7 linked regions of the Homo sapiens genome follow. The protein of the gene in region 5 purifies or fractionates together with the protein of the main gene of each other region. This does not show direct contact. Each region holds a gene or a part of one and is shown on either strand. Other genes may lie near its edges.

The links.
Region 1: the proteins of MTX2 (region 5) and HPN purify together in Homo sapiens (co-immunoprecipitation; one large-scale study listed by IntAct). This does not show direct contact.
Region 2: the proteins of MTX2 (region 5) and IMMT purify together in Homo sapiens (co-immunoprecipitation; 6 studies listed by BioGRID and IntAct, with this or other methods). This does not show direct contact.
Region 3: the proteins of MTX2 (region 5) and SAAL1 purify together in Homo sapiens (co-immunoprecipitation; one large-scale study listed by IntAct). This does not show direct contact.
Region 4: the proteins of MTX2 (region 5) and EXOC5 purify together in Homo sapiens (affinity purification with mass spectrometry; one large-scale study listed by BioGRID and IntAct). This does not show direct contact.
Region 6: the proteins of MTX2 (region 5) and LPAR1 purify together in Homo sapiens (co-immunoprecipitation; one large-scale study listed by IntAct). This does not show direct contact.
Region 7: the proteins of MTX2 (region 5) and MTX1 fractionate together in Homo sapiens (co-fractionation; one study listed by IntAct). This does not show direct contact.

The regions. Positions count from the first base shown.
Region 1 is NC_000019.10:35,047,918-35,052,482, reverse strand, and holds part of HPN (serine protease hepsin precursor), read right to left. Parts: intron 3,221-4,565; exon of another isoform or gene 3,194-3,220; coding exon 3,092-3,193; intron 3,009-3,091; coding exon 2,967-3,008; intron 2,038-2,966; coding exon of another isoform or gene 1,962-2,037; intron 1-1,961. UniProt on the Homo sapiens protein: Serine protease that cleaves extracellular substrates, and contributes to the proteolytic processing of growth factors, such as HGF and MST1/HGFL. Plays a role in cell growth and maintenance of cell morphology.
Region 2 is NC_000002.12:86,146,393-86,150,957, forward strand, and holds part of IMMT (MICOS complex subunit MIC60), read right to left. Parts: intron 1,442-4,565; coding exon 1,310-1,441; intron 1-1,309. UniProt on the Homo sapiens protein: Component of the MICOS complex, a large protein complex of the mitochondrial inner membrane that plays crucial roles in the maintenance of crista junctions, inner membrane architecture, and formation of contact sites to the outer membrane.
Region 3 is NC_000011.10:18,084,890-18,089,454, forward strand, and holds part of SAAL1 (protein SAAL1), read right to left. Parts: coding exon 4,441-4,565; intron 2,337-4,440; coding exon 2,254-2,336; intron 2,166-2,253; coding exon 1,977-2,165; intron 1-1,976. UniProt on the Homo sapiens protein: Plays a role in promoting the proliferation of synovial fibroblasts in response to pro-inflammatory stimuli.
Region 4 is NC_000014.9:57,230,237-57,234,801, reverse strand, and holds part of EXOC5 (exocyst complex component 5), read left to right. Parts: intron 1-769; coding exon 770-814; intron 815-918; coding exon 919-1,059; intron 1,060-2,052; coding exon 2,053-2,135; intron 2,136-3,086; coding exon 3,087-3,296; intron 3,297-4,565. UniProt on the Homo sapiens protein: Component of the exocyst complex involved in the docking of exocytic vesicles with fusion sites on the plasma membrane.
Region 5 is NC_000002.12:176,324,124-176,328,688, forward strand, and holds part of MTX2 (metaxin-2), read left to right. Parts: intron 1-2,701; coding exon 2,702-2,778; intron 2,779-4,169; coding exon 4,170-4,262; intron 4,263-4,565. UniProt on the Homo sapiens protein: Involved in transport of proteins into the mitochondrion.
Region 6 is NC_000009.12:110,940,583-110,945,147, reverse strand, and holds part of LPAR1 (lysophosphatidic acid receptor 1), read left to right. Parts: intron 1-2,979; coding exon 2,980-3,727; coding exon of another isoform or gene 3,728-3,807; exon of another isoform or gene 3,808-4,565.
Region 7 is NC_000001.11:155,211,682-155,215,375, reverse strand, and holds the end of MTX1 (metaxin-1), read right to left. Parts: intron 3,250-3,694; coding exon 3,157-3,249; intron 2,992-3,156; coding exon 2,809-2,991; intron 2,683-2,808; coding exon 2,606-2,682; intron 2,140-2,605; coding exon 1,985-2,139; intron 1,893-1,984; coding exon 1,678-1,892; 3' UTR 1,553-1,677; downstream 1-1,552. UniProt on the Homo sapiens protein: Involved in transport of proteins into the mitochondrion. Essential for embryonic development.

The sequences.
Region 1 (4,565 bases), on a different chromosome or scaffold from region 5:
GTTCACTGCAACCTGCAACCCGCGCCTCCCAGGTTCAAACAGTTCTCCTGCCTCAGCCTCCTGAGTAGCTGGGATTACAGGCGCCCGCCACCACGCCTGGCCAATTTTTGTGTTTTTAGTACAGATGAGGTTTCACCACGTTGGCCAGGCTGGTCTCGAACTCCTGACCTCAGGTGATCTGCCTGCCTCGGCCTCCCAAAGTGCTGGGATTACAGGGGTGAGCCACCGCACCCCGCCCAAGTACTACACAGATTTTTATCTCCTCTTATTCCCACTGATTCTTCTTACCCCCATCTCACAGATGAGGAAATTGAGTCTTGGAGAGAGTAGGGACTGGTGGGAGGCCCCACAGCTCAGAAGGAACTGTGCAGAACTGAAATCTGCCTCTGGGTGTGAGCTAGAAAGAAGTGGGTGAGTAGAGACTTCTGTGTGAGCAGGTCATTTGAGCAAGGGACTGGGCCCTGAGGGTGCTAGAAGCCAGTGTGAGGTGGGGGTGGAGAGGGGCCTCCACACTAGGAGGCTTGGAGCCTGTGATGGGTTGGGATTTTATCTCAATGCCACGTGTTGTCACGGAGGGGCTTTTGACAGGGGCGTGATCCCTTCGCTCTGTCTCTGATGTGTGGTCAGCCTCGGGCAAGTCAGTTTGCTTCACTGGGACTCAATTTCCCCCAAATGCAAAATGTTGGGATGTAACAGCCCTAACTTCATAGGCCTGCTGGGTAAAGGCTGCCGCCAGGGCCTGGCATATGTCAGTCTTTACTATGGCAATGAATTCAGCTGTTCTTTTTTTTTTTTTTTAACAAGCAATCAAGTGTAGACACTATATACAGTTACTACGCAGGCTGCCTGGGTTCAAATCCCAGCCCTGACACTGACTAGCTCCATGACCTGGGGCAAGTCACTCAGCCTTTCTGTGCCTCAGCATCCCCATAGGAAAATGGGTTGTGGTGGTGCACACCTGTAATCCCTGCACTTTGGGAGGCTGATCTGAGAGGACTGCTTTGAGCTCAGGAGTTCAAGATCAGACTGGGCAATGTAGCAAGATCCCATCTCTACTAAAAATTTAAAAAATGAGGTTGGGTGTGGTGGCTCATGCCTGTAGTCCCAGCACTTTGGGAGGCCGAGACGGGTGGATCACCTGAGGTCAGGAGTTTGAGACCATCCTGGCCAACATGGTGAAACCCCGCCTCTACTAAAAATACAAAAATTAGCTGGGTGTGGTGGCACGTGCCTGTAGTCCTAGCTACTCAGGAGGCTGAGGCAGGAGAATCACTTGAACCTGGGAGATGGAGATTGCAGTGAGCCAAGATCGCGCCACAGCACTCCTGCCTGGGCGACACAGCGAGACTCTGGCTCAAAAAGATAAAAATAACAATAATTTGTTATTGACAAAATAATTTTGTGTAGGCATGGTGGCATTAGCCTATAGTCCCAGCTACTCAGAAGGCTGAGATGGGAGGATTGCTTGAGCCCAGGAGATGTAGGTTACAATGAGCTAAGATCGTGTCACTGCACTCCAGCCTGGGCGACAGAGCAAGACCCCATCTCAAAAAAAAAAAAAAAAAAAAGAAAGAAAGAAAGAAAGAAAAAAAAAAGAAAAGAAAAACAACAGGTTGTTGGGAAGACTTAATGAGTTGATATCATAAGGTCCCAAGGCCTTGGCTGGTGCATACAAATGCTAAGTGCTGGTAATGATGATTAATGTTGATGTTGGCTTTTCTTGTCTGGATTTTCATTTCTGATTTTAGTGTGAACTGAATCCTTTATGGAATTAGATGAGGCTCACAGACATGAAAAATACATCCCACCACCCAACTTCCCCTTTTTTCCTGCTGTCCTGCATCAGGGAATGGCAGCTTGAAGTTGGCATTTGGGAAGATTCATTCATTCATCCCACAGTTAGTTTCTTTATCTATTTATTTGTGTGGCCATTCATTCCACATGCCTGCAGACACACTTACAGTGGATAAGTCTAAGAGCTGTTCCTGGCCCCTCGTTCCCCAGCTGCATGTCCTCTCTGGTCCTCATTTTGCACATCTGTAAAATGGAGCTAATTACCAGGGACAGGCGCAGTGGCTCATGCCTGTAATCCCAGCACTTTGGGAGGCCGAGGCGGGTGGATCACAAGGTCAGGAGATAGAGACCGTCCTGGCCAACATGGTGAAATCTCATCTCTACTAAAAATACAAAAAATTAACTGGGCATGGTGGCACACGCCTGTATTCCCAGGTACTTGGGAGGCTGAAGCAGGAGAATCGCTTGAACCTGGGAGGCAGAGGTTGCGGTGAGCTGAGACTGCACCATTGCACTCTAGCCTGGGTGACAGAGCAAGACTTTTTTCTTTTTTAAAACAAACAAACAAAAAAACTACCTCCTAGGAGAGTTAGAAGGGTCCACTGAATTTATATCATGCCTCCCCAACATGTTTTCACCATGCCACGCAGTAAGAAACACATTTTTACATCCTGATGTAGCCCATAGCTCTGTAGTCTGGGGCAAACTGCTGCATTGCTCAAAGCCTCAGTTTCCCCATCTGTAAAACAGGGAGAATAACAGTCCCACCCTCAGAGTGTGGGGATGCAGTGGGATTACATGTATATGGATGCAAAAAAAAAAAAAAACAAACAAAAATTAGCATAACCTTTACTTACTGAGAGATGTACTGTGATAGTCTGTAATCGAATCTATTTCATACTTAAAAAAAAAACATGGTTTTCCAACTCACTAATTTAATTTTATGAGGCACTCATGAGTAATACACTGGTGTCTGAAAAAGTCTGGGTTAGACATGTGGGGTGCTTAGAATAGTGCCTGGTACATAGCAGGCACTCAATACAAATGCACTATTATGATTAGCATTTCTGCATGCATTTGTGCATTTATTCAACAAATACGCTTGTTGAGCTCCCGCCAGATACACGTGTCCTCCAGGGCTCCCCCAGAGGGTCCCAGCCTGCTCCACTCACCTGGGTACAGCGGCTCCTGGTCACTCCTGAGGAGAACAGCCACTGCAGAGAAGGGAGGGGTGAGGGCAGGCAGGCTGGAGGCTGCAGGGGCCAGGGGAGGTCAGAGGCACAGGAACCGCTCTCACCAATGGCCCAGGATGCCGCCCCGATGGCTGTCAGAAGTAGCAGGGTCCCCGCAGTGAGAGCTGCCACCTTGGGTCTGGAGCAGCATGGCACAGTCCGGCCACCTGCAACAGACACCATGCTGGGGCCACAGCCAGGCCTGTCCTCATTGCGGCAGGGTCTGGGCCCGAGGCCAGCTCTGCCCTGCCCCCAGGGCTAACTTATTATGCCCAAGCATGTCCTCCCCAGGCCCAGTTTCCCGGGGCCAGCAGTTGACAGGGCTGTTCCTCCCCTGCCGTGTGAACAACCAGGTGCCCAGCTCCCCCAGGGTTCCAGCTGGGAGGGGGGCATGGCCGGGCCACCTGCCACGGTCTCCACCTCCGCCCTGCACTTTCCTGGCACTTAGGGAATGTCTCCTCCCCAGTGACACTGTGCTTTTGTATTTCTGTCTTTGCTTTGGGCCATCTCTTCTTGGGACTGTGACCCCCAACCTTTGCCCTCTTGGTAGCTCTCTTCCCTGCCGCTGGCATTTCCTCGCTGCCTCAGTCGTTTCTGCTGTTCTAGATGCTTTGCCCCTAGATACCCCCTAAATCAGACCTCTCTCATGGTACCCAGTTGCAAGATCAAATTTGCCCCTCCACTTGAAAATCTGCCAGCCTCATTTTATTTTATGTATTAATTTTTTTAGCGACGTGGTCTTGCTATGTTGCCCAGGCTGGTCTCAAACTCCTGGGCTGAAGCGATCTTCCTTCCTCAGCCTCCCAAAATGCTGAGATTACAGGAGTGAGCCACTGCGTCTGGCCAGCCTCATTTAAAAATATTGACCCTACCCCTTCCTAGCTGGAACCTAAGGCAGGTGCCATCATATCTTTGAGCCTCAACTTTCTTATCTATTAAATGGGCATCCACTGAGCACCTACTTCTAAAAATAATAATTTAAAGTTATTTTCAAGAAGAAGAAGAATAGCTCAAATTGTATTGATGCCTCCAGGTGCTAAGCACCGTTCTAAATACATCAGCTCATTTAGTCCTTATTTCAATCCCACAACTATGATTCCTGTTTTTGAGATAGCTCAGAGAAGTGGGGTCACGTGCCCACAGTGACAGCCTGGAAGAGGCAGAGCAGCGTCCAGAACCCTGGGCAGGTTTGATGCCAGGTCCCCTGTGTACAGCCACGAAGCCATCCTGGCTCTCACTGTGCGGAAGTGCCTGGCACATAGCAAGTTCTCTATAAATGCTTTATAAATCATCAGAGATGTGTGGGCCTGAGCAACTCCCCTCCCCTCTCTGAGCCTCAGCCTCAGTTTTTTTCTTTTCCTTCCTTCCTTCCTTTTCTTTCTTTCTTTCTTTCTTTCTTTCTTTCTTTCTTTCTTTCTTTCTTTCTTTTTCTCTCTCTCTCTCTTTCTTTTTCTTTTTTTTTTTTTTGAGACAGGGTTTCACTGTGCTGCCCAGGCTGGAGTGCAGCGGCGCGATCATGGCACACTGCAGTCTCAAGCG
Region 2 (4,565 bases), about 90 Mb from region 5:
ATGGAATCTTGCTTTATTGCCAGGTTGGAGTGCAGTGGCACAATCTTGGCTCACTGCAACCTCCGCCTCCCAGATTCAAGTGATTCTCCTGCCTCAGCCTCCCAAGTAGCTGGGATTACAGGCATGCATCACCATGCCAATTATTGTATTTTTAGTAGAGATGGGTTTCACCATGTTGGCCAGGATGGTCTCGATCTCTTAACCTCGTGATCCGCCCACCTCGGCCTCCCAAAGTGCTGGGATTACAGGCGTGAGCCACCGTGCCCGGCCGATGTATATAATTCTTTACAGGTTTACTGATGGAACCTAATATTAGAGGAGGCATACCAAGAGAAGAGAGAAGGCTGTTAAAGTCAGAAACAAACTGCCAACTGTATTTTATTTTTGAGACAGAATCTTGCTCTGTCATCCAGGCTGGAGTGCAGTGGCACAACCTCAGCTCACTGCAACCTCCACCTCCCAGATTCAAACGATTCTCATGCCTCAGCCTCCGGAGTGGCTGGGATTACATGCATGCACCACCATGCCCAGGTAATTTTTGTATTTTTAATAGAGACAGGGTTTCGCCATGTTGGGCAGGCTGGTCTTGAACTCTTGTCCTCAAGCGATCCACCCGCCTCAGCCTCCCAAATTGCTGGGATTATAGGTGTTAGCCACTGTGCTCAGCCACAAATTGTCAGCTTTAGAAAGTAAATTATCTGTACTGCAAACCTAAACATAATAATTAGATTAAATTATATTCTAATATCTTGTATTTAAGAGCTTATACATTAATTTTTCTCAGAAAAATATCCAAATAGAATTTAAAATACCTTTTCATACTGACATACATCGCGATTCTCTGGAAGATTTTACTTAGAAAACCTCAATATCTTCTTGCAAGACAAAGTAACAAGTTAATATTACTGTAAATGATTTCTTGAATAGAAACTATGATTACAGGCATCCTGATAATTTACTGGGATTTCAAAACTTCTCTGGGAAATTACCTCAGTTATAAAAATCTAAGCAGTACCATGCCATCTATAGGAGGAAGATACACATGTCAAATATTACTGTCTGCATTCCTGAAATCCCCTTTACCAACTCTCCTTAAAGCTCTGAAGATTCCAAATGACTAGAATATATATTTTAAAAACACATCTGATCATGAACACACAGGTACACCATTATGTAAAAAGAAGCAGTTTTGTAGACATACAAGGAGATTTCCAAATCTTCGACATCCTCAGAGTACATTAAAAGGAAAGGAGAGTCTCTTAATCCTGTCAGGAAGAGGGGTGTGGCTGAAGGGAGTCCAGGTCCTCACCTGCTCAAATTCAGACTTCAATTCCTGTTCTTGTACCCTAAGGACATCTCGCAAGTGATCAGTGTGGGCAGCTGCCTGTCGGCGAAGCTGGGTTCTCATTTCATTTTCCATGGCATCTCTGACTTCTTCTATCTGTGAAACCAAACATAGTAGTTATTAGTTTTCAATTCTCCACATATACTTTTAGGAAAACAGAAAGACCACTATCAACCATGACAACAGCAGCTTCCATATCCTGAACGCCTCTAATGTGCCAGGCATGTGTACACTTCTACTTCTCATGTGAAACGGAAAACTAAACCCTGGAAGGTGATTCAAACAAGATCACACAGCTGTGGCAAAAACCAGATTTCAAACAAAGGTCTCTCTCACCCCCAAACTTGTGGTTTTTCCACATCACCAGGCTGCCTCTCATATAAAACACTGCCATTTCCTGAATCACATGCTCCTCTGAGAAATAACTAAATCCAGGATATGAAAAAAAGTAACTATATACTTGGAATCAAGCGTAGCTTTACTACAACCATCTGTGTGACCTTGGGGAAATGATTTATCTTCTCAAATCTCCACTTTCTCATTTGTGAGTAATAATGCCTACTTTGAAGAATCATTAAGAAAATTAGTTGGCCGGGCGTGGTGGCTCACACCTGTAATCCCAGCACTTTGGGAGGCTGAGGCAGGTGGCTCATGAGGTCAGGAGATTGAGACTATCCTGACTAAAATGGTGAAACCCCATCTCTACTAAAAATACAAAAAAAAAATTAGCCGGGTGTGGTGGCGGGTGCCTGTAGTCCCAGCTACTCGGGAGGCTGAGGCAGGAGAATGGCGTGAACCGAGGAGGCAGAGCTTGCCGTGAGCCAAGATTGCGCTGCTGCACTCCAGCCTGGGCGACAGAGCAAGACTCCATCTCAAAAAGAAAAAAGAAAAGAAAATTAGTAAGTATCTGGTAGTTATTGACATAGACTTGACATAGACTTCTAAACAAAGAAAACTGCTTATTTTTAAATGAATTTAAATTCAACATGGGCCAAAAAAAACCAAAAAATATACCTTGCCTAACAAATAGCCATAGGTCACTTTACAAATTACTTAACACTGATTACCTGAAATCCAGAACTTATTTTTTCTCAGAAACAATATAATAAATCAATGAATCCATTCAGTCAGTGCATAAGTATTTATGAAGTGCTACTAGCCCTGTGTGCCAGGCAGTGCCTACTATCTGTACGGATCCAATGGTGCTTAGGGCAGACGAACTTCTTGCTCTCACAGTGTATATCTCAATGGAGGCAGCAGACAGTAAACAAAAAAGACATCTGAGATTGTGATACATATTTCTACATATGACTGAGCAGGCAAGGACCTGTTGTGAAGCATCAACACCCCTTCAACCTCCTTTTCCCCCACCTTACATTTAAAATAAACAGGGCAACATAACAGAAAGTAATACAGAGACTCTACTTTGGACTGAAGGGATAGGAAATCTCAGTCTTGCTAACAAAGTGACATCTAGGCTTAAAACTTAAGCTTAGAGCTCAAGGTTTAAACAGAGAGGATAGAACAATGTACTAGGCAGAGAAAACATAAAGGTCCCAAGACAAAAGATATAGTCAAGGTACAGACAAAAAATACCAGGGTGCCTGGAGCAGTGAAATGGCTCATGGCATGCAGTGATCAAGAAGCCTTTTGGGTACTGGTTAAGAATTTGGAATTATATTAAATGAAATGGGTAGTCCATGGAGGATTTCCAGCAGTGTAGTGTCTGATTCGACTATGTTTTATTTGCCTGCGTAAATAGACACAGAAAGAAGGGTATGAAGAAAGGGCAAATTGGCTGGGCATGGTGGCTCACACCTGTAATCCCAGCACTTTGGTGTTTAAATTCCTTGGGGAAGGCCGGGCATGGTACCTCATGCCTGTAATTCTGGCGCCGTGGGAGGCCAAGGCAGGTGGATCACTTGAGGTCAGGAGTTCGAGACCAGCCTGGCCAACATGGCAAAACCCCGTCTCTACTAAAAATACAAAAATTAGCCACATGTGGTGGCATGCACCTGTAAGTCTAGCTACTCAGGAGGCTGAGAGGCACAAGAATCACTTGAACCTGGGAGGCAGAGGTTGCAATGAGCCAAGATTGCACTACTGCACTCTACCCTGGGCCACAAAGACAGACTCTGTCTCAAAAAAAAAAAAAAAAAAAGAAAGAAAAAGAAAAAATAGTGGAAGCTGTTAAGATGACAGCTTGGGCTAAGGTGGTAGTAATGGAGTGGACAGATTTGGGATTTATGTTGGATGCAAAACTGGTAGGATCTGTGGGGCAACTGAATATGAGTTGATGGAGGAACAACAAAGCATGATTTGGGCTGGAATAGCTGAGCAGATTGTTCAACTCAGTTTATTTAGAGAGAAACAAGTTGAGGGGCTGGAAGACAGGTTGGAGAGAATAAATAAATCTGTTTGGAGCATGATAAGCATGAAATGACTACTGAAAATCAAGCTGGAGATACCAGGTAGGCTGCTGGATAGGAACCTGAAGCCAAGGCAGAGGTCAGAGCTGGAGATAGACATTTATCAGGTATAGATGGTATTTAAACTTCCAAGTCACGGGACTCAACAAGAACACTTAGAGACAGTTCAGATGGAGAAAACGTTTCAGAACTAATGCCAGGTATGCCACCATTTGAGAGGCTGAGCAGAAAAGGAGGTTAAGGAGTGGCCAGCAAGGTAAGAGAAAGGCCAGAAGAGTATGGTGTCAGGGAGCCTAGGGAAGAAATAGTTTCAAGAAGGAAGGAGTGGCCAGTAGTACTGCTAAGAAGACACAAAGGTGGGATGAGTAGTTAGGTTCCCAAATCAGCCTGTGGACACCTATTTAATAAATGGTGTGCCCAGACAGAGGGCTAAAGAAGCTATTTCACCTGTTTTTTAACCACCAACCACTTAACAACAATAGCAGAGAAAAATATACTCAGACTCCAACAAAGATTCGTTCAGCACTGCTTTAAGGGACAGAGGCTCAGCTCCACTGGAAAGATGAGCTAGATAATCCTGGATACCAGTAGCTTATTCCTTTCTTACACTTCTGCATCTGCTCAACATAAAGGAACTCTGCTCGATCACTCCTTTCCTAGAAGTTCTGATGAGGGGAATGAGGACCTAAGCTCCATTCTAAAGGTCAGCTGGCATGACTTATATTCAATATCCTAAAGCCAATGACTGTCAGTATTTTTTTTTTTTTTTTGAGACAGTCTTGCTCCATCGC
Region 3 (4,565 bases), on a different chromosome or scaffold from region 5:
TGAGTAACTGAGATTACAGGCATGCGTCACCAAGCCTGGCTAATTTTTGTATTTTTAGCAGAGACAGGGTTTCACCATGTTAGCCAGACTGACTTTGAACTCCTGACCTCAGGTAATCTGCCCGCCTCAGCCTCCCAAAGTGCTGGGATTATAGGTGTGAGCCACAGCACCTGGCTGTAAAACATATATCTTATACCCAATAATGCTTAACAATGGAACTCTAGGATTATTCCTACTAAAATCAGGAAGAAGGTAAGGATGTTTTCTACCATCACTATTATTTTACACCAGAGACTCTAGGCAACCCAGAAAGACAAGAAGAATAAACCAGAGATAGACAAGTGATAAAATATATCTAACTTAAGCCAAAGCACTATCAGATAAAGCCCAAAGATTATTACTGGAACGACTACTAAAAATATTAAGAATTTGGTAAGGTTACAGGATACAAAGTTAATATACCAAAATCAATAGCCTTCATATATTCCAACAATAATAATCAGTGGAAGAAAATATGTCACAGACAATAGTAAACCCAAAAGATACAATTATCTAGGAATGAAACTAATAAGAAATATCCAAGATCCATATGAAGAAACCATTACTGAGGGACACAAAAAAGACCTGAACAAATAAAAGGGCATAACATATCCTATCAAGTTAACACGATGTCAACAAAAATGTCAGAAATTTTTTGTTTTTGGAACTCAAAGTTAGTGATAAAAATAGTTAAAAACATTCTGAAAACTTAGAATGAAGAGGAATTTGCCTTATTAGGTATTAAAACATAAAACCTTAATATTTAAAAACACTATGGCTACTAATATATGAATACAGCAATGGAACTGAACAGAATATATAGGGGAATTTTAAAAATAATGATGAAATTTCAAATCAGTGTGGGTAAGCTGGATTATTCACTAAATGATGTTGAGATAACTGGGTAGCCCTCTGGGAAAAAACTGATACCACTAGAACCAAAGTTATCAAAGGGGGAAAAAAAATTAAAGCCACACTTCACATGTGACACGAGAATAAATTCTAAATGAATCATGAATTTAATTGTGGTCATAAAAACAATTCTGTGAAAGAATATGTGTTTATATAGGAAAATATTCATTTTATATTTCTAAATGAAATGTTGGCTAAAAAGCAGAATTAAATATATGTGCATGTGTGGGATGGTAAGATTACAAACATCATGTTTCCTTGATATTTTTTATAAATTTTTCGGCAGGGTGCAGTGGCTCATGCCTGTAATCCCAGCACTCTGGAAGGCAAGGCAGGAAGGTCATTTGAGCCCAGGAGTTTGTGACAAGCCTGGGCAAGATTGTGAGACCCTGTCTCTATAAATATTTAAAAACTAGCCAGGTGTGGCGTCATGTGCCTGTAGTCCCAGCTACTCAGGAGGCTGAGGTGAGACAATCACCTGAGCCCAGGAATTCAAGGTTGCAGTGAGCTATGATCCTGCCACTGCACTACAGCCTGGGCAACAAAATAAGACTCTGGCTTTAAAATAAGTAAACAGGCCAGGTGGGGTGGCTCACGCCTGTAATCCCAGCACTTTGGGAGGCCGAGGTGGGTGGATCACCTGAGGTCGGGAGTTCGAGCCCAGCCTGGCCAACACGGTAAAAACCCGTCTCTACTGAAAAAATACAAAAATTAGCTGGGCATAGTGGTGTGCGCCTGTAATCCCAGGTACTTGGGAGGCTGAGGCACGAGAATCACTTGAACCCAGGAGGCAGAGGTTACACTGAGCCAAGATTGTACCACTGCACTCCAGCCTGTGCAACACAGCAAGACTCTGTTTCCAAAAAATAAAAATCAATAAAAAATAAAATAAATAAATATGATAATAAAATAAATTTTTGAAGTTTAGCATGTAATGTTTTTATAATTAGGGAAATGAAAGCATTTTTTAAAAGGGAGAAATAAATGAAATGAAAAACAGTATGAGCCTGGGAAACTGTACTTGCCTTTTTCTATCTTTAGATACTCTTGCTCAGTCTGTGAGGCATAGATGGCAGACAACACTGAAAAAACAGAGGCTAGCACTGTTTTCTGTTCTTGAAGAATGATGGGTGGATCATCAGACTGGCAGAATTCATGGCAGACCAGGTCAAAAAGTAAATTCCAAATGTCTTTTCCAGTGTCAGGACAATGTACTTAATAAAGAGGACAAATAAAGCAGTACTTTAAAATCAGCAAACAATTAAATGAGTAACTGTAGTGCATCCCGATAAACCACCTTACCAATTGCTTGAATTCCATCATCCACTGTAGTAAGCAGTTGTAAAATGTGCATGTAAACATCAAGCCATTCTGGATTTTCAGAACTAAATAGGAAAAGTAAAAGCACTGAATCAACAACTTTACTGTCCAGGGGATTCCAATCATTCCTCCATTCAATAAATATTTATTACTCTGCCAGCCACTGTTCAAGGTGCTGAGGATAAAACAAGGAAAGGAACGAAGTCTCTGTGTTCGTTAGAGCTTTTATATTCTAATAGGGGAAACAGCAAAAAATAAACAAATATTATATAATATAATCAACACACACAGGACAAGAAGTAAAAAAACTTTTTGGCTCTATCTCATAAAAGCAACAACGCAGAAACCTACCAGTTGATACTTTATCATTTTGGTTTGCTTGAATAATCAGAACAAAAAAAGACTGCGATTTTTATAGTATGAACGTTAAGGTCCGCTGCATCACGCATCAACAATAATGATGTTCTGAAAATGTCTCAGGATTAACCTAGCTCCCTAGCTGAGAACACTAAAACCATGTAAGTCTAATTCTTATGATCAACCGTTTGGATTCTCAAAAATCTAAATAGTTTGGAAACTCAAAATCTTAGTTCTTCAACCAAACAAGTGAAAAGACAGTGAACAATTAAAACAATGGTTTGGCAAATGTTTATTTAAGTACTTACAAATTTCAGGCACTATGTTAGGAGTTGAGAAAACAGATGTATAAGATGTTATCCCTACCTTCATAAACTTTATACTCTAAAAGGAAAGAAGATTCCAAGTGGGGTAATTACAATAAAGTGGTACTAATGTAGCACTATGGGCTAGGAACTTCACAAAGCAAGGAGACTTAGTTTGCAGGGTCAGGGAAGGTATCTTAAGAAAAATGATGTTTACACAGAAACATGAAGGGGCAAAGAAGTGTCTGAGGTGGAGGAAACATACTGTGCAAGGGCCTGGAGACAAGACAGCCTGGTTCAGTTGAAGAAGTGACGCAAACTTCACATGACTGAAACGCAGAGTACAAGGAATAAGGATAGCGCTACTGGGTCCATAAGCTGTACTTTATTTTTTTGAGAATTTTTCATTTATTTCATTCTTTTTTCCCCTATTTTATTTATTTATATTTTGGATTCAGAAGGTACATGTTGGGGGTTGTTACATGCATGATGCTGAGGTTTGGGAATATGGATGGTCCCATCACCCAGGTGATGTATGTAGTACCCAAGCTGTGTTTGTTTGTTTGTTTTTCTGGACCTTATCCTAAGGAAGGCAACTGAAAAGACCGAAGCATGAGAGTGAAATGAGTGCGTACTTTGCAAAAACAGCTTTAAAGTCTAGGCTTGGGAAGAGCAAGCATAGAGGCAGGGAATTCAAGTAAAAGAATGTGGCAGTTCTCCAGATGAGAAACAATAATGGCTTGATTGGCATGGATGGAATCCCAGAAAATGTCAGGAATAAGGGTTGGGAGTTGACTGCAATGGGAAAATACTGGGGCAGGAAAGATTCAGTAATTGGCTTCTCCATTTCTTCTACATTATCCAAATAGGATAATGATTACATCATTTACTGAGATTGAGAATACTGATGAAGCAGGTTTAGGGAAAGATGATGAATTTATCCCTCACTTGGATAAAGGACACAAAATTAATAGGTTTTGATGTGGCTTACTCAGCACTAAGAATGCACTAAGAAAAACACTAAGCAGATCAATTTAAAAATTAATTTTCTAGTGATTAGCAATAAACAGTTTTAATGACCTGTAAGGCTTAGTAATCACTCTTGGCAAGACATCAGAGTCCCAACATCGGTCACTTATTGAAGACTGGCATATAAACACAAGGAGCAAAAAAAAGCAAATGATGTGCAACGTTAATGAAGTTGTTAAATGTTCAATGTAAAATAAAGCACAAGAAAATGTTTTCTCTTTGATTTAAATTACATAAAATATGGTAAGACAGAAACCACAGTTAATGTTGAGTAACAGCCTATAGCTAAATGATAATATAACAGGAACTTTGTAACCACTATACAGGTTGCATCACAAATAGTAGTAGTGAATTAACGTAACAAGGAGTGACTATGTACTTTATTCTGTTGTAAGGAATATAAGAAGACTTTTATATCTGAGAATACTTCTAGCAATTGCATTTTCCCAGAACATTTTACACAAAAGAGCTCACCTACCGTACTTGTTTGGCAGCTTCAAGTATACAGGGCACAAGCCGAAACACTGGCTGCTCTTCAGACTCTTCCTGGGGTTGGTCCAGAGGCTGAGCAGCCCCATTTCTGACCCATTCTAACATTAGTTT
Region 4 (4,565 bases), on a different chromosome or scaffold from region 5:
GTTTAGCTCAGGAGTTCGAGATCAGCTTAGGCAACATGGTGAGACCCTGTCTCTACAGAAAATACAAAAATTAGCCGGAGGGGAGGCATGTGCCTGTAGTCCCAGCTACTCGGGAGGCTACAGCAGGAGGATCGCATGAGCCTGGGAGGCAGAGGTTGTAGTTAGCCAAGATGACACCATTGCATTCCAGCCTGGGTGACAGGAGTGAAATCCTGTCTCAAAAAAAAAAAAAGAAATATATATATACACATATATATATATATACACACACACACACACACACACACACACGTATATATACACACTTTAATATATATAAATATATTTATATGTATATAAAACACATACATATATATATGTAAAACCTTTTCCCAAGACCTTGACTCTCTGTGTATGTGTGTGTTTGTGTGTATGTGTGTGGGTGGGTGTGAGTGGGTGTGTTTTGGAGTTGAAGGAGATGGCTAGATGATCATAGGACAAAAATTACTCTAAAGAACTCAGTTACATACTTCATCTTTCTTGTTTTAGTCTAAAGTTCAACAAGGATATGTACCAACTGATAAATTTTATCATAGAAAGTGACTAGGGAGACGATACCTTTATCAAGTTACTGGTTTTCTGCAGTTAATTTTATTTAAGTCCAACAGGTGTTGCTATTGGCCATTTACTGGTAAATAGTCATAGCTTTATGACATATAACACTTCTTTTTTTGAAATAATAATTATTATAATTGAATCAGAATAATAACAATGTGTTTCTTCCTTGTAGGGTTATTCCCATTGTGTTGATGTTTATATAAAGCAGTGCCAGGAGGTAACATAACAGTACACTTTGTTGGATATTATTTTATGCTAATTGTTGTTTTAAAATCATGTAGAAATTATATGTTCACTGTATAAAATGTCTCTGCTGTTTAGGGTGCTTATTTGAGAAATGATATATTTGAAGACGCTGGAATACTCTGTCAAAGAGTGAACAAACAAGTTGGAGATATCTTCAGTAATCCAGAAACAGTCCTGGCTAAACTTATTCAAAATGTATTTGAAATCAAACTACAGGTAATTTTAAATAGTAACAAATTAAATAGTTCTTAAAGCAATATGTAATTTTTTCCCTATATTTTAAAAGTATTTTTAAAATTTAGTTTACTTATGTAATGACCTTAGAAATAGTAATCTAGTTAAGGAGAAAGGAATCCTCATGCTTTTTAAAAAATGTTTTGTATTCACCAAGAAGAAAGTGCTAATCAATAAGTATCATCAGAGAACATGCTTGAAATTTGTGTAGTATTCGTAGTAGTAGTATAATATATTGTGGTAAGATAGCCTTGAAGATTTTTCTTTTTTTTTGGTCCCTGCCTTCACCAATAGATGTCATTTGTGAAACTGAACAAGAATTACAAGAGCAGTCTGTAGAATTTTTAATAATATGGTACTAACCTGAAAAGGGAAAACACAGAAATTTAATTTACCCCCATATCACTGTACTTTCAGATAACATTTCCTAAGCTGTTTACAACTGGATTAAACAACATTCAATAAATGTTTGCTTTTTTTTTTTTTTAACACAATTCAGGAATTTTGATAGTATTGTCATTCTCTAGAAGTGGGGATGTAATGTACAGCATTTCACACATTTACTGTCTAAGAAACCCTGTTTTGGAGTAATGCCTATAGACATCTGAAGGAACACTAGTGTTACCTGGAACTCAGTTTGGGAGATGCTGCCTTAAGGAATTGACTCTATTGTTTGTACTCTCAGTTTTGTTTTTTTGATGCACCTCACAGAGCAGAATAGGCCAATTTAACAGAAAAGGTATTATTCCTAAGACTGATAAAGATCCTCTACAGGTAAATATGAGAAGTGGTAAAATGTAAAAACCTGTTTTAAAATATTTTATGATTGGTTTGTTTTCTGTAATTGCCTTTTTGATTGGATTGTAAGTCAGAAAGGTTCAAAACTGTGGAGTGAATTTTAAAAGAAAAATATCTTGAGAAGTTGTAGAATTTAATATTTACCTAATTAACAGAATGTTAACCTTTTTCTTTTAGAGTTTTGTGAAAGAGCAGTTAGAAGAATGTAGGAAGTCCGATGCAGAGCAATATCTCAAAAATCTCTATGATCTGTATACAAGGTAAATTTTTAATGATTAGAAAATAATAGATAACAGATTTTTTAAATTTTTTTGATAAAAACAAGGAAGTATTCAGGTATTTTTGAATAAGTTTGTCACCAGTTTACCTTTTAGCATTAAATGCTTAGCTGTATAGACTAGTTATATTGTACAAGACTGTATTGTACAACATTCTTAATACATTAACGTCAGGAATTGGATGTTATGCTTTATTTTTTCTCTAAGCATTAGTGTAATTACATTTATCTGCAGTCAAAACTTTAGAAACTGCAAAAGGAAGTGATGTAATCTTAACAAATGACAATTTCAGCTCTAAATCTTCTGTAGGAATTTGTCTTGTGCTTTTGTAAATGTCAGTGTTACTCTTAGAGATTGTCTCAGAAGCTTCATATGGAGTCTTGTGGGGTTTTTTTTTTCCTTGACTTTTCCCAACCCTATTACTCTTCTTCAGTGTCTTCATTTTGGGAGAAGGTTTTTCCAAAGTTACCGTAATGAGGAAGTCCATCTCAACAACAACACTGTTATGACCCTATCTTCAGCAATGGGAAATAGAAAATTAGAGGGAAAGTCCACAAGGACAAAACAAAAGAGGGTGAACAGACAGTAGATCTTTCAGTACTCTGTTTTGGGTCCCATGTGATGAATGGCATTAGACATACTTGAGGCCAATCTGCCACTGTCGCCATTTCTGGACTAGTTAATTGCCTCACAAGTTCTTTTCCTAGGAATTTATAACAGTTCTCAAAACCGTAAAGTTGTTCGTAATATTTCACTGTATTTATATGTAACCCTGTAGAGTTGATCTCTGCATCATAAGTACTCTCCCAGAGTTTAAGAAATGGTGGCTTAACATAAGTCATGAAAGTCACGTTGTAAAAATTTGTATTCCTTAATATTGTTACTATACCTAAAATGTATATTAATCTTTTTCTCCCCCTTTTTCATGAAAAGAACCACCAATCTTTCCAGCAAGCTGATGGAGTTTAATTTAGGTACTGATAAACAGACTTTCTTGTCTAAGCTTATCAAATCCATTTTCATTTCCTATTTGGAGAACTATATTGAGGTGGAGACTGGATATTTGAAAAGCAGAAGTGCTATGATCCTACAGCGCTATTATGATTCGAAAAACCATCAAAAGAGATCCATTGGCACAGGAGGGTGAGTATTTTTGTTAAATACTTCTGTTAAAACTGAAGACATTAATAACTTCATTATATTTGGGCAAATTATCAAATGTTGACTATCATTAGAATTTTCTGTGAAGAGTTCTTTTAATCCAGATTGTTATATTATTGATCAAATCTTGTTCTTAAACCACATGTTGAAATGACCTAACATAACATGATTGAAATGTAAGCCGGGCGTGGTAACTCACTCCTGTAATCGCAGCACTTTGGGAGGCCGAGATGGGCTGATCACCTGAGGTCTGGAGTTCGAGACCAGCCTGGCCAACGTGGTGAAACCCCATCTCTACTAAAAACACAAAAATTAGCTGGGCGTGGTGGCAGACACCTGTAATCCCAGCCATTAAGGAGGCTGAAGCAGGAGAATCACTTGAACCTGGGAGACGGAGGTTGCAGTGAGCCAAGATTACGCCACTGCACTCCAGCCTGGGCGACACAGCAAGACTCCGTGTCAAAAAAAAAAAAAAAAGTAAAGTAGATATTTGTCAATTAAAAAATAATGTTTTAAAACTATCGAGCAGAACACTAGTAATATAAAAAGTTCCATAGTTTCTTTCATTTTTTTTTTTCTCGATAGAATAAGTTCCAGGTTATTGACCAGGAAACGCATCTTTTTTTTGTTACTGTTGCAGGTGTGAAAAAAATAGAAAATAGTTTGTAGTTTAAGTACCTTGAATTGATGAGTTTTGTTCAGAGACTTTAGCATAAAAAACTATTAAATTAATACCTTAATGCCTACAATTATTTACAGACTAGAAGAAAATAACTTGCTCCAAGAATAGTTGGCATCTTAGCTACCAGGCTTTAACTGCCTGGAACCCAGATTCTAAAAAGAGACAGAATGACATTGGTGGACTCAAAGTCCAGAATCCCCACATGTATATATCGAAACCAGTTTTCTTATTTCCCATTTTGTTGTGTATTAAATAATGATTAGAGAGAGTTAAAATTAGTAGTAAGAGGTAATACCTGAAAGGTAGTAGCAAGGAAGGGAAGAGGAAAACTAATGAATAATAGGAATTTGTGTGTGTGTTTGTGTGTGTGTGTGTGTGTGTTTACGGTAGTCTCAAGTTACATATCCTAAGAGCAAAAAAAGTTTAACCTTCCAAAGATACCCCATATAAGTGTTTCAGGTGACCCTCAGTAATTAAGAATAGCTAAATTATGTTTAATATATCTTCTTTAATATCATGAATAAATGTGCATAATCTTAAAATGACTATATTTTAAAATTGTTAAACTT
Region 5 (4,565 bases):
TTATTGTAATTATGGTTTTGTTGGAGCAATAATACGTAGAATTACTCCTTTTTGAATAAATTATTAAGTATAACTGATTGGTATAAGTGTGTAACATTGCTTTTTAGGGAGACATTTTTCATTTTGATATGATAATTTAGGAGTGACTTGTGTTAAATTTTTTTTTTCCACCTTAAGTTTTTAAGGGTGGTAGAAATTGTTAAAAGGTATGAAGACACCCCTTCTGTACATAATGTTCTTTTATATAAATACCTGGTTTTAGAGGTTTATGAATATACATTTAGAAAACATTTCCATAAAATAATTTCTAGGCTTGTAAATGTAAACATATTTTAGATTCTTGGAGGGCATTCATTGACTCATTTTTGTGTTGGTTTTATACGTAGATTTTAGGAACTACAGAGTTCTGGTGAAATAAGTTATGTTGTGTTTTGTCCATCCTTTTCCTCTATGTAGTCATACAAACAGTTTGTATATTTATGTAAAAAGGTTAGAAGGTTAGTAATCTAATGCTAAAGTTCAGATCTTTGGCAAGTGAGATATCAATATAGTTTATCTACCTGTTTCCTAAAATTACTATACTTAGTGTCATTTAGGTAGATACCTATTTTCTTTTTATTAGATTGCGCGAAAGACAAACATAAATATTCTAGAGACATACAAAAATATACATTCTTTCATAGGAGTCTCCTATAGGTAGATGAAAATGGCACTTTCTACTAAGATATTTAAACTTTATCATATCTCAGATTGGTATTCTCTTTCATTTAATGATTTGAGGTGATAGGGAAATGTTTTTTATTGTATTTGCTTCTTTGATCTTGCGGTAGATTTTTAAAGCAGAGAGCATGGACTAGTCAGAAGACCAGTTGACTTAAACTCTTATTTCCTAAAGAGTTAGGAAATCTTTAACTAATCCTTCTGTGACTTTGTCACATATTAACTATTTCCTTGAGAAATTTCACTTCTCTGAGCCTCAGTGACTTCATCTGTAATATAAGGTAGCCGGATTAGATGACATCCAAGGTCCTATTTCTTGCATTCTTTGAATCTGCCAACTTGTTTGGCAACATATTCTTGCTTTCTTTAGAATAAAAATTTTAAAAGTGATTATTCTGTCTAAGACGGTAAACAAAGCCCTCAGTTTTCTTATATGACCTTTGATTCGCACCAGAAAATAACTGTCTTACTGTGTTTTTGCCTGATACCTGCAATAATAAGGATATAACATTGGCTCCATTTTCATTAAGCAGGCTAGTGACAGAAAACATTATTCACTTCTAATTTGTTGTGTTTGTTTTTATATATCTCTTTATATTTAGAGATATATAAGATTAATACTCAGTTGACTATCCACACTTCTTTTTGCTTCAGAATTGACAACGCTCAATGTATTTTTAAGAAAAGAAAAAAAATACAAACCCTTTTTTCCAAGAACCTGAAACTGGTCATTAAAAACAAGGAATATGCTTTGCTCTAAAAATATTATACCCCCAAATACTGTTTGTCTAGGTACTAAATAGTTTTCATTCTCAGATCATTTGATCTCAGGGGACCTGTAATAATTCTGGTAGTATAGTAGTTACAAAGATTTTATCCCGAGTTAAGAAAACAATGTGGCCTAATGCTTAACCAGATAAAAAAATTTTTTTTTGCAAGATTTATAAAGCAGTAGAAGGAAGGAATGCAGAATTGGCAACAGGGAAATATCTTCTCAATACATCTATTGAGTTGTTGTGTTCCAAAAGGCCTGCCTTTTCTTTGTAATGCATGTTGTCCTATGGATGCAGTTGAAGCTTTTGTTAGGCCTCTGTACTTCATCCATTACCCCCAGGCTGACGGAGCCAGAGAGGAGTGAATCTATTGAAAAGGAACAGGAAGAAGCCTGCTGTTAGTGTGAACTCTATTTGAACTAGGTGTGACAGCAGGTTTCATTCTTTAGCATTTGGAGTAGACCCTTCTTGCTATTTGGAGATTATTTTGTTCTCTCATCTCTAATAATTCCAAGTATTAGTATTTGTTAAAGTGAAATATTTCTTTTTTAATGTGACATTTATCTATAGAAGCTAGTTTTTATAAACATACTATTATTTTTTCCCACATGTTGGGAACATACTCTGTATTACAACTCACCAACTAGCATGCCTTCAAAGATTGTTAATTCTTTTAATTCTTGCTATTTTGAGTTAAAGAGATTTATTGATATACAATTACTTGCTTAAAATGTTGATCTCAATGGGTATCAAAGACTTAAAAGATGTAAAAAGGTTTTTTAAATGTAGTTTACAATATAGATTGATTCACTGTACTCTGAAAAGAAAGCTTACATTTCTTTGAAATATATCAGTGGTCATGTACCAGTGTCCTGGCTTGGTTCATGTAATTTGGATAATTAGTGTTTGCTGCTATATGGTGATATGTTTGTGTTGGCTCTGAAAAGAGAATGTTATGTGATCTGTTATTATATCTAAGTGAGAACTCTAGAAATGAATTTACCTGTTCTTTTTTTCTAAAGTTGGTTAGTAATCAGTTTAAAAACTTACAGAATTTAATATACACATCTGACAAAAATTTTCAAAAGTTACAGTTTTATGAAATCCCTATTTATAAATACCTGAGTTTTGTGTTAATTTTTTTTAATTATCACAAACTTTAACATACTGGAAGTATTTTTATAAATACTTTTTTTTTCTCTCAACAGGTAAAGTACCTTTTATTCATGTGGGAAATCAAGTAGTATCAGAACTTGGTCCAATAGTCCAATTTGTTAAAGCCAAGGTAATAAAAAGATATTAAATGTATTTGATCAGTTACCAAGTCATTCATCATTCTTTAATGTGTCTTAACATTTACATTGATTTCAACCTAGTTTTATAAAATGCCAATGCAAACTACTGGAAAATATTTCTGAAGTGTAAGTTAGTATTTTTTCATGATATAATGGCAAAAGAGGTAGCTTTTTTTCCTCTATTAATGTCAAATTTATTAAAGGTATGTAATTTTAATATCTAGTCTAAAGAGATGGTTTGATCTTTACAAAATGGTAGATAATTTTCTAACTTATGCTTACTACAACTGTGGTCATAAATGAAAAACTATTAGGTTTTGAAGTGTCTGGCTGACCTTTGAAAAGGGAGATACAGGATTTGTTTGAAGTTGAATGTATTTATCCATTTGAATGATTCTGCTTTTCATTTATTCAGTTTAGATTTTAATAGTTATTAAGGAACAACTCCCATTAGTGTTTCTGAAAAATCATTCCAGACTTTTTGAATATATAGAAAAACCTAGATCATACTAGTGTGTATTATTTTGCAACATACCTTTTAAAATCATAAATATGTTTGGAAATTCTTCCATATTAATAGCTGTAGGTATATATCATCCTTTCACATTGTTGTATTCTGCTGTATTGGAGATATATATATATCTCCAAAATATATATATATATTATTTTTTTTTTCTTCAACACCCTCCCCCTGTATTGGATAAATTAGAATTTTATTTACTCAAGTTTATTGTTGGGCTTTTAGGTCATGGCCAATTTTTTGTTTTTATAGAGTACTAAGATAAATTTTCTTATATATACATCTTTGTATAAATTCCTAAGGTTGGTATTGGTACCTTAGGATAAATTCCTGAGAGTGGTATTAGGATGTCATAGGTTATGTACTTTTTAAATCTTGTAATAGATTGCCAGATTGAACTAAAGGTTATATCATTTTATGTATCTCCTAGTAACTATAGAGTATTAGAATTTTAAAATAAGTGGGTTTCTCCCCCCATATCTTTACAAACGTATTTTTTTCATCTTTGACCACTTTATAAACAGCACATGTCAGTCTTTTGGCATTTCCTTTATTTCTAAATAAGGTTAATCTCTTAAACAAGGTTTGCTGACCATTCTGTTTTCTTCTTTTGTGAAGTAGTTGATAGTGTAATTTTCTCTATTGAAAGATACATTTGTATAATGACAAGTAAGTACATACTAATATTTTGTAGTGATAGCAGAGTATTATTTATGCTTTTATATAAAATAATTTTTAGGGGGCATTTTGGACGTTTAATTCATTGTATAGTTGCATGTTACGTTATTTGTTAGTGAGATAACTGAAAGTTTTTGTATATTTAATATGATGTTCTTTTAAATTTTTTTAAATTCCCTTTAGGGCCATTCTCTTAGTGATGGGCTGGAGGAAGTCCAAAAAGCAGAAATGAAAGCTTACATGGAATTAGTCAACAATATGCTGTTGACTGCAGAGGTAAAATACTAGATGATACGGCTTGAAAATAAGCTTTTTCTCTCATTCTCATAAAATATAATCTTTCTTATGGGTTAAAGTTATTGAGAAATGGGAAAATAGTCAAGTAATTCTAGAGTTGAGTTGGCTACCTAAATTATTTGATTATTACCTTTGAACAAGTTACCTGACATTTTCAGTTCTAGTTTTTCTGTTTATAAAAAGGAGTGATTCTTGCCTACTCATTATTTTACTTTGGCCTTTTGAAATTTGCTTAAATAATATCTGTAAAACACTTTAATGGTATTTAGACATGTATTGTGT
Region 6 (4,565 bases), on a different chromosome or scaffold from region 5:
CACTGCTTATTCTTTTGACCTGTTGCTTTCTGCAGACAATAAGAGAGGAGGTTTAATTCCTCTATCAGTTCAGTCCTATTGTCATAAAACTAACTGAAATTCCTCTCACTTCTTCTCAGGCATATTATACCCTCCCAATTTTTAATTCCTGGTGTATTTTCTACTCTTTCAATATTTAGCTGCTAATTTTCATGAAATATAGCGTTCTTATCCAGAATCCTCTTAGTATAGGATTTTAAATCTGAACTAGACCTTATGTATAAGTTAGTCCAATTTCCTCATTTCACAGATGATAAAATTGAGTTTCGAAAATCATTTAAGTTTTATCATTAAATATGTATGGTTTTTATGGTATTACAGTCAATTGTTGAGAGAAAAGAAATGGCATAGGACAGGGCACTTTTCTCTACCTTTAGAGAAAATCTGTCAGTTTTACTCATCTTTGTACATTGTGGCTTAAAGAGATAATTTATACTTCTTAATTTTGCCATCCTTAACTTTATCGTTTTTCTCTGTGGGAAGGGCTAAGAAGCTGCATATATCTCTGCTTAACTTTGTTGCTACTTGGTGTTCAGAAGTTGGAATGCTGGGAAATAATATACGCTTGATATTTGGTTTAAACATTTCTTGATTCAGAGAAGGTAGATGGTTATAGAGACTAATGAAAAGAACAGACTTTTATATTTGTCTTGACAAAGTTTTAAATATCCTTTGCAGAAAGAAAATTTGTAAAGTTTAAACATTTTTGGAAATATCTTTAATTTATTAAGGAAATCAATATGTATTTAGCATGTAGTCCATAGAACAGTTGGATACTATACAACAATGAATAAGCAAGCTAGAATCTCTGCGTTTATAGGGTTTCATAGCCTAGTGTAGAGGGGATCAACAGATAATTAAGCAATTATGATACAGTGATTCCCTGGACCAGCAGCCTTGGCATTACTTGGGACCCTACCTCAGATCTACTGAATCAGAAGTTCTTGCGGGTTATGTCAGCAATCAGTGTTTTACAAACTCTCAGGTAATTCTGATACAAGAAACCACTGTTTTCACTGTTGAGAACCAGAGTTGAGAGAGAGAGCACAGCACATTAAATAGAGCTGAAGCTGAGAGTTTGGAGTCATTAATATCTTGAGTTGAGGCTGGAGAGGCAGGTAAGTAAGGTCTGATAAGATGATTGAAAAGTTTAGACTTTTATCTAACGTGCACTCATAAGCCCTTAAAACATGTCCAGTGGGGAAACAGCTTGATCAACTTTGTCTTTTTTTTTTTTTTTTTTGAGATGGAGTTGGGGTCTTGCTTTGTTACTCAGGCTGGAGTGCAGTGGCATGATCTTGGCTCACTGCAACCTCCACCTCCCGGGTTCAAGCGATTCTCCTGCTTCAGCCTCCTGAGTAGCTGGGATTACAGGTGCCCACCACCATGTCTGACTAATTTCTGTATTTTTAGTAGAGAGGGGGTTTCACCATGTTGGCCAGGCTGGTCTCGAACTTCTGACCTCAAGTGATCCACCCACTTTGGCCTCCCAAAGTGCTGGGATTACAGATGTGAGCCACTGTGCCCTGGACTGTGATCTCTTTAAGAAGCAGACAAGTAAAGAGATAAATAATTATACAATGTATTAAGTATAATATTTGAAGCATAATCTAAAAGCTATTAAAGTCTAGATAAGGAAAGAGACTTTAGATGCCTGGGTAAGTCAGAAGACTAACCACTTAAGTATTTCACGTTGTTCTTGGAAGTTTTAGTGTACAACCTATGGATATTCAGTAGAATATTTGATCAAAAATAGTGGTTAAAAGTGTCATATGTTTTGGGTAATTTATTAGATTCAAAGCAAAATAAAAATGAAAAAGTAGAATGTGAACCGTCTTCAAGATATATTTTTTAATTTTAGGGGTCCCAGGTAAACTTAGAGCTTCAAGAAGAATGACTTACTCTATGTGATGTATACTTTTCTAATTTCTAGTTTGTTACTTATTTTCTAATTTTGTTTAAATATATTATTATATATAATTACATATTATAATTATATATAATTATATATTATATATTATGATAGATAAATAAACATATATTATTCTGTTTTAAACTGTCTCAATCCTTTTTAAAGTGATTATTATAAATATTGTAAATAATAAGCAAATATATTCTTATCAATGATGTTGAAGAATAAGTAAACATGTTATAAAGCATTTTCACTCCACACTTTAAAAAATATGCTGCATCTAATCTAAGTATATTTTACTTGTAGAACATTGTCAAAGGGTCACCTACTCTTTGGAGGTTACGTTGGGTCCTCCAAAAAGAAAAAAAATTCTCAAATGTCATAGATTGGTTGACAAGTCCTATTCTGAACTTAAGGAGTTGTGGGGGTAGGCAGTGCTGACCACAGGAATGTTGAGCAGCAAATGCTGGCTTTGGGCAAAAAACCTTTGATGCACAGTGACTTGTTTGAAATGTTTGGAATGATGGTCCTTGTGGGAACCTGCATTACAAAATGTCTGTCCCACATGGAACATACTGTGTGAGAATAGAAATGCAGAATAATAGGGCAATGATACCCTATCTAGAAACCAACTGTGTTTACAGATTCCCTAAATAACAGGTCAAATAGATTTTACTATGGTAAATATTCCAATTGCAATGTTCTGCAAAATTTTTGTCTGTCTCATGTATTTTAAGCAAGATTTCTTGGCCATGTGGCTTTTGTAGTAGACTTCAATGACATAAAACCACTAAGCAGAGACCTTGTCATTTATTTAACTCCAACTGCCTTTAATCTTAAGGACAGTAATATTGTGAGAAACCTTGGAGTTTCAACATAATCACAAGATGGTATGCAGGATCAAATGTTCAAATTATTTGCTTTTGTTTTTCTGTTGCATGTACTATAAAAGTCTTGTGTTATCTATATAAGCTTTAAATTTGGACCTGTGCCTTCTTTTTCATCATCTTTTCTCCTTTTTCTTTTAGTTCACAGCCATGAATGAACCACAGTGCTTCTACAACGAGTCCATTGCCTTCTTTTATAACCGAAGTGGAAAGCATCTTGCCACAGAATGGAACACAGTCAGCAAGCTGGTGATGGGACTTGGAATCACTGTTTGTATCTTCATCATGTTGGCCAACCTATTGGTCATGGTGGCAATCTATGTCAACCGCCGCTTCCATTTTCCTATTTATTACCTAATGGCTAATCTGGCTGCTGCAGACTTCTTTGCTGGGTTGGCCTACTTCTATCTCATGTTCAACACAGGACCCAATACTCGGAGACTGACTGTTAGCACATGGCTCCTTCGTCAGGGCCTCATTGACACCAGCCTGACGGCATCTGTGGCCAACTTACTGGCTATTGCAATCGAGAGGCACATTACGGTTTTCCGCATGCAGCTCCACACACGGATGAGCAACCGGCGGGTAGTGGTGGTCATTGTGGTCATCTGGACTATGGCCATCGTTATGGGTGCTATACCCAGTGTGGGCTGGAACTGTATCTGTGATATTGAAAATTGTTCCAACATGGCACCCCTCTACAGTGACTCTTACTTAGTCTTCTGGGCCATTTTCAACTTGGTGACCTTTGTGGTAATGGTGGTTCTCTATGCTCACATCTTTGGCTATGTTCGCCAGAGGACTATGAGAATGTCTCGGCATAGTTCTGGACCCCGGCGGAATCGGGATACCATGATGAGTCTTCTGAAGACTGTGGTCATTGTGCTTGGTAAGTTCTGTCTTGACTGTAACTTACTTTATAGATTCTCAGTGACTAACATAAACCACATTATTTTATGTCAGAGGTAACCAACAGTATGAATATTCACCAGGTAATTCACCAGGAATTACAAGGGGATGAGGCACCTTTATATTAAATGTCAGCTTATGAGTCTTCCTAAAATTATAGAATTAGCGTTAGGGAAACATGGGTCCCAGTGGTGCAGTATAAATGATGATGATGTAAAAGATGTCATTGAAGAGTTTGGCTATCTAATATTGAAAATACCAGAATTACCAGTCAAACTCATTCATTTTTCTTACAGCCTAAATTGTGAAACTTTTGCATTGTGGTTTCTGTATTACATATTTTCAGACAGAAAGTGCTTTTGTAGAATATGAATATGCTTCCATATATAGTTATTTTTGTTAGTCTATTCTGTAATTGTTGCTACATTATAGGTAGTATATCAAGGTTTTATATAGATTTACTGAACAAAACAGATTGGAATTAATGATATTCTCTGACAGTCATCTTCATGAAAACTTCCTTATTTTCTATTAATTTTCTATTTGTAGTAGTGGAGGTTAATTCATATTTCAAGGTGAAGAGCAAGATTTGTAGACTCAAATACCTTCTGCTTTTAAATAAGCATTGTTTTTCTTGGATGAAAAATTCATAGTAGTGATCAAGAAGAATATATTCACTTATGTGTGTAGAAGGTAGTTAAAGAGCACCTACTATGTTCTACGCTCTGTGCTGGCTCCATGAAAAGGACAGATACAGACATTTCCTTTGGAGCTGAGAGTAGAGTGAGAGTTTTTTAAAATAATTACCCAATGGAATT
Region 7 (3,694 bases), on a different chromosome or scaffold from region 5:
GCAACTACTGAGGCACTTGCAGCTGCCTCAGACTTCTCAGCTCCCCTTGAGATGCCTGGATCTTCACACCCCCAACTCCTTAGCTACTAAGGAATGTGCCCCTCACAGGGCTGACCTACCCACAGCTGCCTCTCCCACACGTGACCCTTACCTACACTCTCTGGGGACCCCCAGTGTTGCGCCTTTGTCTCCTTGCCTTTGTCCTTACCCTAGAACCTCCTGTACCATGTGGTCGGCTGGACCGACTGGAACCCATCATTGTAGACATCACCAAGCACACGTTTTACAAACAGCCCATGTTCTACCACCTTGGCCACTTCAGGTGAGTGGAGGGCGGGCACCCCCATTCCATACCAGGCCTATCATCTCCTACATCGGATGGCTTACATCACTCTACACCACGAGGGAGCAGGAAGGTGTTCAGGGTGGAACCTCGGAAGAGGCACACCCATCCCCTTTTGCGCCATGGAGGCAGGAAGTGACTAGGTAGCAACAGAAAACCCCAATGCCTGAGGCTGGACTGCGATGCAGAAAAGCAGGGTCAGTGCCCAGCAGCATGGCTCCAGGCCTAGAGAGCCAGGGCAGAGCCTTTGCAGGAGTTATGGGGTGGGTCCGTGGGTGGGCGACTTCTTAGATGAGGGTTTCATGGGAGGTACCCCGAGGGACTCTGACCATCTGTTCCCACATTCAGCAAGTTCATTCCTGAGGGCTCCCAGAGAGTGGGGCTGGTTGCCAGTCAGAAGAACGACCCGGACGCAGTGGCACTGATGCATCCCGATGGCTCTGCTGTTGTGGTCGTGCTAAACCGGTGAGGGCAATGGTGAGGTCTGGGAAGTGGGCTGAAGACAGCGTTGGGGGCCTTGGCAGGATCACACTCTCAGCTTCTCCTCCCTGCTCCCTAGCTCCTCTAAGGATGTGCCTCTTACCATCAAGGATCCTGCTGTGGGCTTCCTGGAGACAATCTCACCTGGCTACTCCATTCACACCTACCTGTGGCGTCGCCAGTGATGGAGCAGATACTCAAGGAGGCACTGGGCTCAGCCTGGGCATTAAAGGGACAGAGTCAGCTCACACGCTGTCTGTGACTAAAGAGGGCACAGCAGGGCCAGTGTGAGCTTACAGCGACGTAAGCCCAGGGGCAATGGTTTGGGTGACTCACTTTCCCCTCTAGGTGGTGCCAGGGGCTGGAGGCCCCTAGAAAAAGATCAGTAAGCCCCAGTGTCCCCCCAGCCCCCATGCTTATGTGAACATGCGCTGTGTGCTGCTTGCTTTGGAAACTGGGCCTGGGTCCAGGCCTAGGGTGAGCTCACTGTCCGTACAAACACAAGATCAGGGCTGAGGGTAAGGAAAAGAAGAGACTAGGAAAGCTGGGCCCAAAACTGGAGACTGTTTGTCTTTCCTGGAGATGCAGAACTGGGCCCGTGGAGCAGCAGTGTCAGCATCAGGGCGGAAGCCTTAAAGCAGCAGCGGGTGTGCCCAGGCACCCAGATGATTCCTATGGCACCAGCCAGGAAAAATGGCAGCTCTTAAAGGAGAAAATGTTTGAGCCCAGTCAGTGTGAGTGGCTTTATTCTGGGTGGCAGCACCCCGTGTCCGGCTGTACCAACAACGAGGAGGCACGGGGGCCTCTGGAATGCATGAGAGTAGAAAAACCAGTCTTGGGAGCGTGAGGACAAATCATTCCTCTTCATCCTCCTCAGCCATGCCCAGGGTCCGGGTGCCTGGGGCCCGAGCAGGCGTTGCCCGCTGGATGGAGACAATGCCGCTGAGCAAGGCGTAGCCCACCATGGCTGCCAGTCCTGCCAGCACAGATAGGATCTGGTTCCGGCGCCGGTATGGCTCCTCCTCAGTCTCTGGGCCTGCTGGTGTCTGGCGTTGCGGTGGTACCTCAGCTGAGGGTCAAGGAAGGAAGGTGTGTTAGGAGAACTAGTTCTTGGATCCCTGCCCACTCTCCCCAGGGCTGCCCCTCCCATCTGCCCCTTACCTCCATCCCAGGGGAAGTAGAGACTGAGAATGTGGGTACAATAGGCACAGAGGTTGTGCAGCCCACGCAGGTGGACCTGCAGCTTCCCACTGGGCAGCTTTGCCTGCAGCAGCAGGGCCAAGTAGCTGAAGACGAAGGCGTCCAAGGAGGCAGGGCTGGAGCAGAGAGAGAAGGGTGGGATGGAGGAGAACCACTGGGGTAGAAGGGGTAAAGATGGAGCTGGAGGAAGAGTCAGCCTTGGGAGGTGGGCTCTGGGCAGCAGGCGGCCACCAGGGAAGGACAGGACACACAGTTCTAGACCTGGTATGGGGAGAGATCCCCAGGTGGCGCCAGCCTGGCCCTGAATAGGGCTCTATCCCAGGGCTGCATAAAGGGCACATTCAGTGCCCCACAGCTCTTCAGGCCCCTCCTGTGCCTGGCTGCCCTCCCACCCTACCCTTTTGTACCTCTGAGAAGGCTCTGGCCCCCACACAGTCACACTGTCACTAGGGCCAGTTTCTATCCCAGGGACCTCCTATCCAGAGCCTGAGCCAGCCCCAGCCCCAGCCCCAGCTCCAGCTGCTCCATCTGAACCTGTATCTTCTTCCAAGCCACCCATTACCCTCTTGGAGTCAGACTCACGCATCTCCAAAGAAGAACTTTTGAGAGCCCAGGCGCTGAGAGAGCAGGGTCAGACACTCCCGAGCCTCTCGGTACAGCTGTAGGGGCGACACAGGTAGGCTTGCAGCTGTGGGAACAGTGCCACCTCCCCACCTAAGCACTCCCATTCCTGGCCAGCATCCTTGGGGCTCATCTCATACAATAGCCCCCGGTCTCAGAGCTACCTCCTTCTCCAGCTCTTCCTCGTCCTCAGGCCTGTGCTCCCCAGTCAGCAGCTGTAGCCGTTCCATGTACTGCCGCTGCATGCGGCCAGGCAGGAAGAAGTTGAGGGGAAAGGGCATAGCCTCTGCATACCACTTCCGGGTCACTTCCACGTAGTTCTTGGTGTCTATCCAAAAAGTATGTACCTGGATTGGGTGGGCAGGAAGAAACAGGTAGGTCTGAGCCAGTGCACCTGTCTGATTCAAGGTGGGCTTCTGACCCCCATGCTTTCCTGAGCCTGTGTGTGGGTCTGTGTGTTCCCGAACCCTCCCCGGCTGGCCATGGATGCTGGGAGGTCTGGGCACACTCACCAGCACCGGGAGCAACTTCTCCTCCAGGAGAGACATGAAGGCCAGGGTGTCTGCCCCTTGCCGAGCTGACAGATCATAATCAGCATTGTACTTCTGTGGAGGAAATATCCATGGCGTGGACACTAGGGAGCTGCAAGGGCACTTCACCAGGGAGGAAGGAGTCCTGTCTGGTACCCCCCTCACTGGCCTCTGAGTGCAGTGGAGGTACAGCAAGGAACTTTTCCTGCCAAGGCCCCCTTGCCTGGGCCCAGCCAGTAGCCTGTTGCTGTTGGCGAAAAGCCTGGGCCTTGGAGCCTCCTGGCCGTGAAGGTCCAGCGCCCAATGCAGGGAAGGAAGGAAGGCTCCGCCGCAAACTAGGAGCAGCTCCCAGAATTTCCATGGAAAGCTGGAACAACGCCCGCTGACGGCAACTTTCTAACAGTAACTTCCCCGACCCAGACACCACAAAGCTAGCACAACGGAGCTCAGATGCAGGCTAGGACTCGGTCCATGCCTCAGGAACCAGAGAAAGCCATCCTCACACTCCCTGGATCCAGGG